Homo sapiens: one gene and its partner. The protein of the gene in region 1 purifies or fractionates together with the protein of each later gene. This does not show direct contact. Each region holds a gene or a part of one and is shown on either strand. Other genes may lie near its edges.

Region 1 (4,156 bases):
GACATCCATTTTTCAGCTTCCTCTAGTTTTTGAACTTGCAAACAAAGGAGAACTTCTTCTCACAAGATTCATCCTTCCATTTCTTGAATCCTATGGTACAATGAGAAGTGTCAGACATAGAGGATCAGAAGGAGTGTAGCCCCTCCTCAACCTAGGACTCAGAACAAAAAACTAGAGGAAATACTTCTTTATTTTCCAGATAAGGAGCTTACCTTTCCTCTATCCCAGTCCCCATGTTCATCCCCAGAGATAAGTGGGAAGGAAATGGCAACAGGTGGATAGATTGTCTGCCTCTCACCTGAGCATGAAGTCAGGCTTGCACAGTAGCCAGCATTAGCACTGCTCGGGGATCCAGTGTCCCAGGACTTGTAGGAGACCAGGGACCCACTACTCCAGTGCCAGCGGCGGTTCTAGATGGAGAAGGGCCAGAACAGGGGCCATGGTCACTCAAAAATCAATAGAATAACCAGGCCTGTGTGCACACTCAGAAACAGGCCAAGTTATAGCAGAAAGAATAAACATTGTTGTCACCATGAATATCATATCATTTCCTCTGCTTTTGCTCTAAGCTTCTCCTTCTCTAGAATGTCCGAATTCCTCCTCCTCTTCCAGCAAATAATAAGTGTTCAGAATTTGATACAGAGACCCATAAAAGCCCATTAAAGAGAGTGGTTTCTGATTTTTTTCCTGAATCTCAGAACTCTCATATCCAGCATAACATTGGCTGTAGAGTAGTCGTTGATATATTATTTAGTTTATAGTGTTAAACTAAATAATATACTGTACAGTTTTATACACTTGTATAAAATGTATAACAAATGCCAGCAGTAGATTCTCCTCCACTACTCATTTTCTATATAGTCTACAGAGGGACCTCTTCCAAGACAGACAATAGCAAAATAGGGAAAAAGTTGTACATAAAGATGCATTTCTAGAAGTAGACACAATGAGTGGGTGCATGAATTCCCAGAGCCCAGAAAATTCAGCCTTCAGCTCATGTCTCTAACTACCTACACTGAACTTCACAACTCATACATTATAGGATCTATAAAGAGGTTGCTTTTATTTAAACAAACAAAAAGATAAAAGTTGGTGATTGCGGTGCCAGACCTTAAACGTCCCTCTTACCTCTCAAAAATGTTTATAAGGAGATAGAGGTGGCTGCAGACTGACCTTTTTTGGGTCATGGAGGCCAATCCAGACATTGCTGTCATCAGTGCTACTCTCCTTAATCAGTGAGGCCACGAAGGCACCCTCCGCCTGGGTGAGCACAGACACCAGGTTGCCTGAATTCATGTTCTGGCAATAGAGCTGTTGGAGAAGAAAATGGAGCACTCAGTGGAGAAGGAAGGTGTGAGGGATATACTGAGACCTTCCAGAGGATGTAACAGAAAAAGGACAGCACAGAAATGTCCCTGATGATGCTGTCACTGACCACCAGCATCTCTGTGCTGGGAATGTGTCAAATGATGGGATAAAGTAGATTGGGAAGTTTGGGACCAGTGGTGGAATAGGGAAGGGATCAATCTTATCTCATTGCAGCCACAGAACACACTGCAAATTAGCAGCTGCCTCTACCTTCATAAGCCTCCCTTCCCCTGCTGCTCTCCTCACTCACATCTGCATCAACCCAGGTCTCAGGGTCTTCATTAAAGTAGTAGCAGTAGGAGCGATAGGCATTGGTGCCTTCTGGGCAGCTGATTCGGGGATTAGGCAGCTCTGTCTGGGACTCCTGGCCTGGGGAAAAAAAAAAGGAGATAATTAAGAAAGAATCGCAGGGCAAGGAAAAGGCTGGAAGGTGAATTAGGGGCTTCTTGGTGTCCTTTATAAGAACATATGGATACAGTGAATACTGGGGCGATTGCTCACTTCTGCCCTCCTGCATCCTATCTCTTTTCTCTCTAGTTTCCTCTGCTCAAGACAAGAGCTCACAATGAATAGGCTAAATAAATGAGTCCTCGTTTTCCTTTAATTCTGAGGCTGAGGCTTCTGCCTTTAAAGACCCAGGCTTCCTCCTTTCTCAAGTTTCTCTCGGTTTCCCTGCACACGTTTGCCTTAGCTCTCCATCCTAGCAATGACTACATAAAAACATCCCCCAAACTGCCATCGCATATAGATTCAATCAGATAAACTCAACCACAATGGTCACCTATAAGTGGTCCTATTAAATTCTGTCTCAAACCCATGAATGAGGTGAGGGTGTTTTTGAATGGGATAAAATCAGCCATAATGATCACTGAACAACATAAAAAAACCCTGATGTTGACTCTGCTTTTTTTCAAGTGAACCTTATACATGAGGATGGAGGGAAGAATTCAGAGTTGGGGTTGTGGGAAGTGTGGGGGAAAATCTCACCTTGGCTCAGAGACAGGAACATCAGGGAGGAGATCAGCATGAAGAACGAGTTGGTCTGAGCCATGCTTAGCGGCAGTGAATCTCTTGCTTAAGGAGCAAATCAGCAATCTCTGTAGGAGAACACAGGGAAGAGGGTTTGAAGAAGAGAGCAGAGCACCTGTTATCTTTCTAACATCCTCTCCTCTCTGAATTCCTGTGAGCCGAAAGGTCCACTGAGATAGCTACACTCCCAGATATTTCTCTTTTGGTTTGGGGATAACAGAGGCCAAATTACCCGAAATCAGCTTTGGTCTTGCTTAAGTTTCATTACTACTGGGATCTTTTATTCAGAAAATCACCCTGTATCTACCTCAAAATGAAAAGAGAAAATCCCACGTTAGACATGCTCTTCTCCTGTAATGCCCCTTTACCTGTTGGTAAGTGCCTTGTCCACTTGAGGTGGCTTGTCAGGTCAGACAGAGTAGGAGCTTTATATCAGGGTCTGAGAGAGAACTACATGATATAAACAATGGGTGGAGCAAGGAGTAAGGATCAGAAGGCCTACAGAGGGCACTGACAGTAAGAGATTCTGGCATCAGGAATAGCTTATTCCTGGCACACATTAGGAGTGGTCACAAATGACATCAACTTACCACAAACAGGTTGGCAAACTGTCCAAGTTGATGTTGAGCTTTGCTCTTCCTCTGCAGCATCCAGGTGTCCAGTTCCCATGGCCTTTAGCAGTCCTAGAAAGAGCAGAAGAGTAGATTTCTTTGTGCTAGGTAAATGTGGGATGATCCTTTCTTTGGTTTAGGCATGGGTAGGGGTAGGGGAAGAGTCAACTGAGTCCAAATGATTAAGCCCAATTAGCTGGTGGCTTTAAGTCATTTCTCCATTCCCTTTCAGGTTCAGGAACCTCTCAAGACCTACTTCAGAAGGCAAGGTGTATTAGTCCTTTTCATACTGCTATAAAGATAATACCAGAGACTGGGTAACTTAAAAAGGAAAGAGGTTTAATTGACTCATAGTTTAATTGACTCACAGACTTTCCTGAGGATGGGGAGGCCTCAGGAAACTTACAATCATGGAGACGAAGGGGAAGCAAAGCATGTCTTACATGGTGGCAGGTGAGCAAGAGAGAGTGGAGAGGGAAGAGCCCTTTATAAAACCATCAGATCTTGTGAGAATGCACTCACTATCAAGAGAACAGCATGGGGGAAACTACTCCCGTGATCCAATCACCTCCCACTAGGTTCCTCAATCCACACATGGGGATTATGAGGATTACAATTTGAGATGAGATTTGGGTGGGGACACAGAGCCACACCACATCACAAGGTTTAGTAGTTACGTAAATTTAAGCCAGCGTTTCCAGCAAGGTTTCAGCATAAGTAGCTAGCATGATACAGATGTTCTCAAAGTCCAAGCAGGTGGGAACTGCAGGGAGCTGATGCCTAAGTAAGCTCAAAGTAATGGAATATGAAGTTGTTGGTTTGAAGTCAATTGTCTGTTGTTGTGAAGTTACAGATAGTGATGTGAAATTAAAAGCTTACTGAAATTCCCATTAAATACCCATTCAGAATCAGGGAACAAGAGCAAATCTGGAATTTAAAATTCAGTTGAAAAACTAACCAAAATGTTCACAGAAATAAGGATGGCTATATCAATTGGGATAAATGACAAAATAATATATTTTGAAATACTAACAGGAGTTAAATTAAATAAACTAAATATATTTATATAAACATGAGCTCATTTCAAAAGCATATATAAACAAAATGAATTTTAAAAGTTGCAAAAATTTACAAACTAATAATATTTA
Region 2 (3,500 bases), on another chromosome or scaffold:
TAAATTAATTAATGCCCCTCTAGTCAGGATTTGTACTCTGTAGATACCGCAAACATTCCTTCTTTATTTGTATGTCTGTCTTATGAAGGCATTTGAGTTTGTGACCTCTGCTGTGCATACTCTTATACCCATACTTTATTTTTATTATTTATTTATTTATTTTAAAGAGATGAGGTCTCACTGTTTTGCCCAGGCTGGACTTGAACTCCTGGGCTCAAGTGATTCTCCCATCTCAGCCTCCCAAGTAGCTAGGACGACGGGCACACACCACCACACTGGGCTCCATTATTTCTTTCTTTCTTTTTTTTTTTGGAGACAGAGTCTCACTCTGTGGCCAGGCTAGAGTGCAGTGGTGCGATCTCGGCTCACTGCAACCTCTGCCTCCTGGGTTCAAGTGATTCTCCTGCCTCAGCCTCGTGAGTAGCTGGGACTACAGGCACACACCACCACGCCCAGCTAATTTTTGTATTTTTAGTAGAGACGGGGTTTCAACATGTTGGCCAGGCTGGTTTCAAACTCCTAACCTCAAGTGATCTGCCTGCCTCTGCCTCCCAAAGTGCTGGGATTACAGGTGTGAGCCACCACGCCTGGCCTCCATTATTTTATTATTATTATTATTATTTTAACTAAATAGTATTTCCTAGAGATAAAGTTCACTACCTCACTCCTTTAATAACTGTCCAGTGTTCCACAGTGTGAATGTAGAAATTTACTTAACCAGTTTTTGATGGATATTTAGGCTACTCACAAGAAACTTCTTGTTTTTTTTTGTTGTTGTTGTTGTTTTTGAGACAGGGCCTTGCTCTGTTAGCCAGGCTAGAATGCAGTGGCATCATCACAGCTCACTGCAGCCTTGATCTCCTGGGTTTAAGTTATCCTCTCACCACAGCCTCCTAAATAGTTAGGACTCCAGGCGTATGCCATCAAACCTGGCTAATTTTTATATTTTTTGTAGAGGTGGGGTCTCAATATGTTGCCCAGGCTGGTCTCGAACTCCTGGTCTCAAGCGATCTGCCTGCTTCAGCCTCCCAAAGTGCTGGGATTACTACAGGTGTGACCTGTCAGGCCTGGCCCTTTTTTTTTTTTAAACTACATTATAGCTCTATGGATAGTAAAAAGTTAGATTCTCAACAGGAAATTCATAATGTAATTTTTGGTATCCTTAATCTGCTAAACAGTTGGGCAAATCTAATTTGGTCAGAACTATCATCCTAGTTTTTTTGTTTTCAGTTGTTTGGAAAGATTTGATTCCTCTCCACTCTTTTTTGTCTTCTTCCAACATCTCATCTTTCTTAGCTCATGTCAGCTCAGTCCTCTTTGATGTTTTGGAACTGTATGGATGGGCAGCTTGTCTATGGACTAAATTTACTAGTCCCTAGATGCTGTTGGGATTTTATAAGTATATCCCATGTACTATTAATAGATGTTCAACCCAATACATTGTGAAACCTATCCTTTTACAAAGAAAATGATTATAAAAATTTACTGTCAGTAATGTACTTTTTTCTTTGAAGTAAAATAATCTTTAATAAGATAGTAGTAGTTTGTATGTAATAGTGGTCCCATTTTCTAAGAGAGTGAATAAGAAAATGTGACATTTAGGCCGGGCCCGGTAGCTCACAGCTGTAATCCCAGCACTCTGGGAGGCTGGGATGGGTGGATCACCTGAGGTCAGGAGTTTAAGACCAGCCTGGCCAACATGGTGAAATCCTGTCTCTACTAAAAATACAAAAATTAGCCAGGCGTGGTGGCAGATGCCTGTAATCCCAGCTACTTGGGAGGCTGAGACAGGAGAATCGCTTGAATCCAGGAGGTGGAGGTTGCAGTGAGCCAAGATCGTGCCATTGCACTCCAGCCTGGGTGACAAGAGTGAAACTCCATCTCAAAAAAAAAGAAAAGAAAATGTGACATTTTCCTTCTTGTGGTTGGACTCTATTCTGGTTATTGAGCAGAAATGAAACCAGCTTACCAACTTTTATAACTTTTGATTTTAGAGAAGTTGACAAGTGAGATTCAGAGTCGGGAAAATAAATGCATGGCTATGTACAAGAAGCTGAGCAGGTGGCCAGAGTGCAATGCCCTTTCCCGGCGCCTCTTACTAAAAAAGTGAGTAAAAGCTTTCTTTTGTACCATTTGACTGTAGTGAGGCTTTAAGACCTCACTATTGATTTTCTTGGTGTCTGTGTTTTGAAGTTTCTGGGCATAAAGTCTTCTTATAGTAGTTGTGTCCTGCATGTTTCTAAAAGTTTTTAAGGAGCCTTCATCTTTCAGTAGAGTATTATAATGGTACTTGTAGGCTGGGCATGGTGGCTCATGCCTATGATCCCAGCACTTTGAGAGGCCAAGGTGGGCAGATCACTTGAGGTCAGGAGTTTGAGACCAGCCTGGCCAACATGGCGAAACCCTGTCTTTACTGAAAATACAAAAATTAGCTAGTTGTGGTGGTGCGTGCCTGTAGTCCCAGCCCCTCGGGAAGCTGAGGCACAAGAATCGCTTGAACCTGGGAGGCAGAGGTTGCAGTGAGCTGAGATCATGCCACTGCACTCCAGCCTGGGTGACAACAATGAGACTCCATCTCAAAAAAAAAAAAAAGATACTTGTGCCACCATGGTGCTGAATTCTAGTTAGGGCTTAAGAATGAACACTGAAAATCATTAATTTCTCAAATTCAGTATTCCCCTAAAAGAGAGAGGCTTCATTCTTTGCTACAACACTTCTCTCCCCTTCCCTCTATTTTGGAAGTGCTTATGTGGGGACTTTTCTGTTATGAATATTAGTTTTCTAGACCTGGTCATTTTATTGAAGGAAAGAGTAGTTTACTACTCTTTACAAATACAAAGTAGTATTACTTTGAAAATGCCCTTTTAGATTTGCAAAGGAAACATGGAGTGGGTGGGGGTAAGCCAACCTACTACATACTAAAATATAACTTACAAAATAAATTGAATATCATGGTTCCTAAGGAAGATCTGTCACAACTTGGGTTTAATCCTGTGTGCATCATTCAATCTGATTTTAGCTCAGATGACTGGCAGTTCTATCTGACTTATTTCGATTCTGTCTTTCGACTGATTGAAGAGGCCTGGAGTCCTCCTGCTGAAGGTGAACAGTAAGTTGTCTTCTTTCCTGAATTATAACAGCACTTTTTAATATAGTGTAGTGAAAGGATTTCATTATAAGCCAATTGAATTCTCTTTTTCTGTCTCAATAAAGTATTCCTTTCAAAGTAAGACATTTTTTCATATTTTTTAAAGTATAAAATACACAAGTTCATTCTAAAAATCATGTTAGTGCCAAAATATGTGGTGTGCTAATTTCCACTTATCCTACCATTCCAAAAATAACTCTTGTTAATAGTTTGGTGCCTTTCCGTGAGATTTATTTCCATCTTTATGCTAAGATAATTTTTCTTTTTCTCCTTTTTTTTTTTTTTTTTTTTTTTGAGATGGAGTTTGGCTCTTGTCACCCAGGCTGGAGTGCAATGGCACGATCTTGGCTCA

What was found.
Region 2: the proteins of REG1B (region 1) and NAA25 purify together in Homo sapiens (affinity purification with mass spectrometry; one large-scale study listed by BioGRID and IntAct). This does not show direct contact.

The regions. Positions count from the first base shown.
Region 1 is NC_000002.12:79,085,194-79,089,349, forward strand, and holds the start of REG1B (lithostathine-1-beta precursor), read right to left. Parts: upstream 2,801-4,156; 5' UTR 2,766-2,800; intron 2,466-2,765; 5' UTR 2,420-2,465; coding exon 2,356-2,419; intron 1,738-2,355; coding exon 1,619-1,737; intron 1,312-1,618; coding exon 1,174-1,311; intron 411-1,173; coding exon 299-410; intron 91-298; coding exon 23-90; 3' UTR 1-22. UniProt on the Homo sapiens protein: Might act as an inhibitor of spontaneous calcium carbonate precipitation. May be associated with neuronal sprouting in brain, and with brain and pancreas regeneration.
Region 2 is NC_000012.12:112,074,284-112,077,783, reverse strand, and holds part of NAA25 (N-alpha-acetyltransferase 25, NatB auxiliary subunit), read left to right. Parts: intron 1-1,994; coding exon 1,995-2,106; intron 2,107-3,019; coding exon 3,020-3,109; intron 3,110-3,500. UniProt on the Homo sapiens protein: Non-catalytic subunit of the NatB complex which catalyzes acetylation of the N-terminal methionine residues of peptides beginning with Met-Asp, Met-Glu, Met-Asn and Met-Gln. May play a role in normal cell-cycle progression.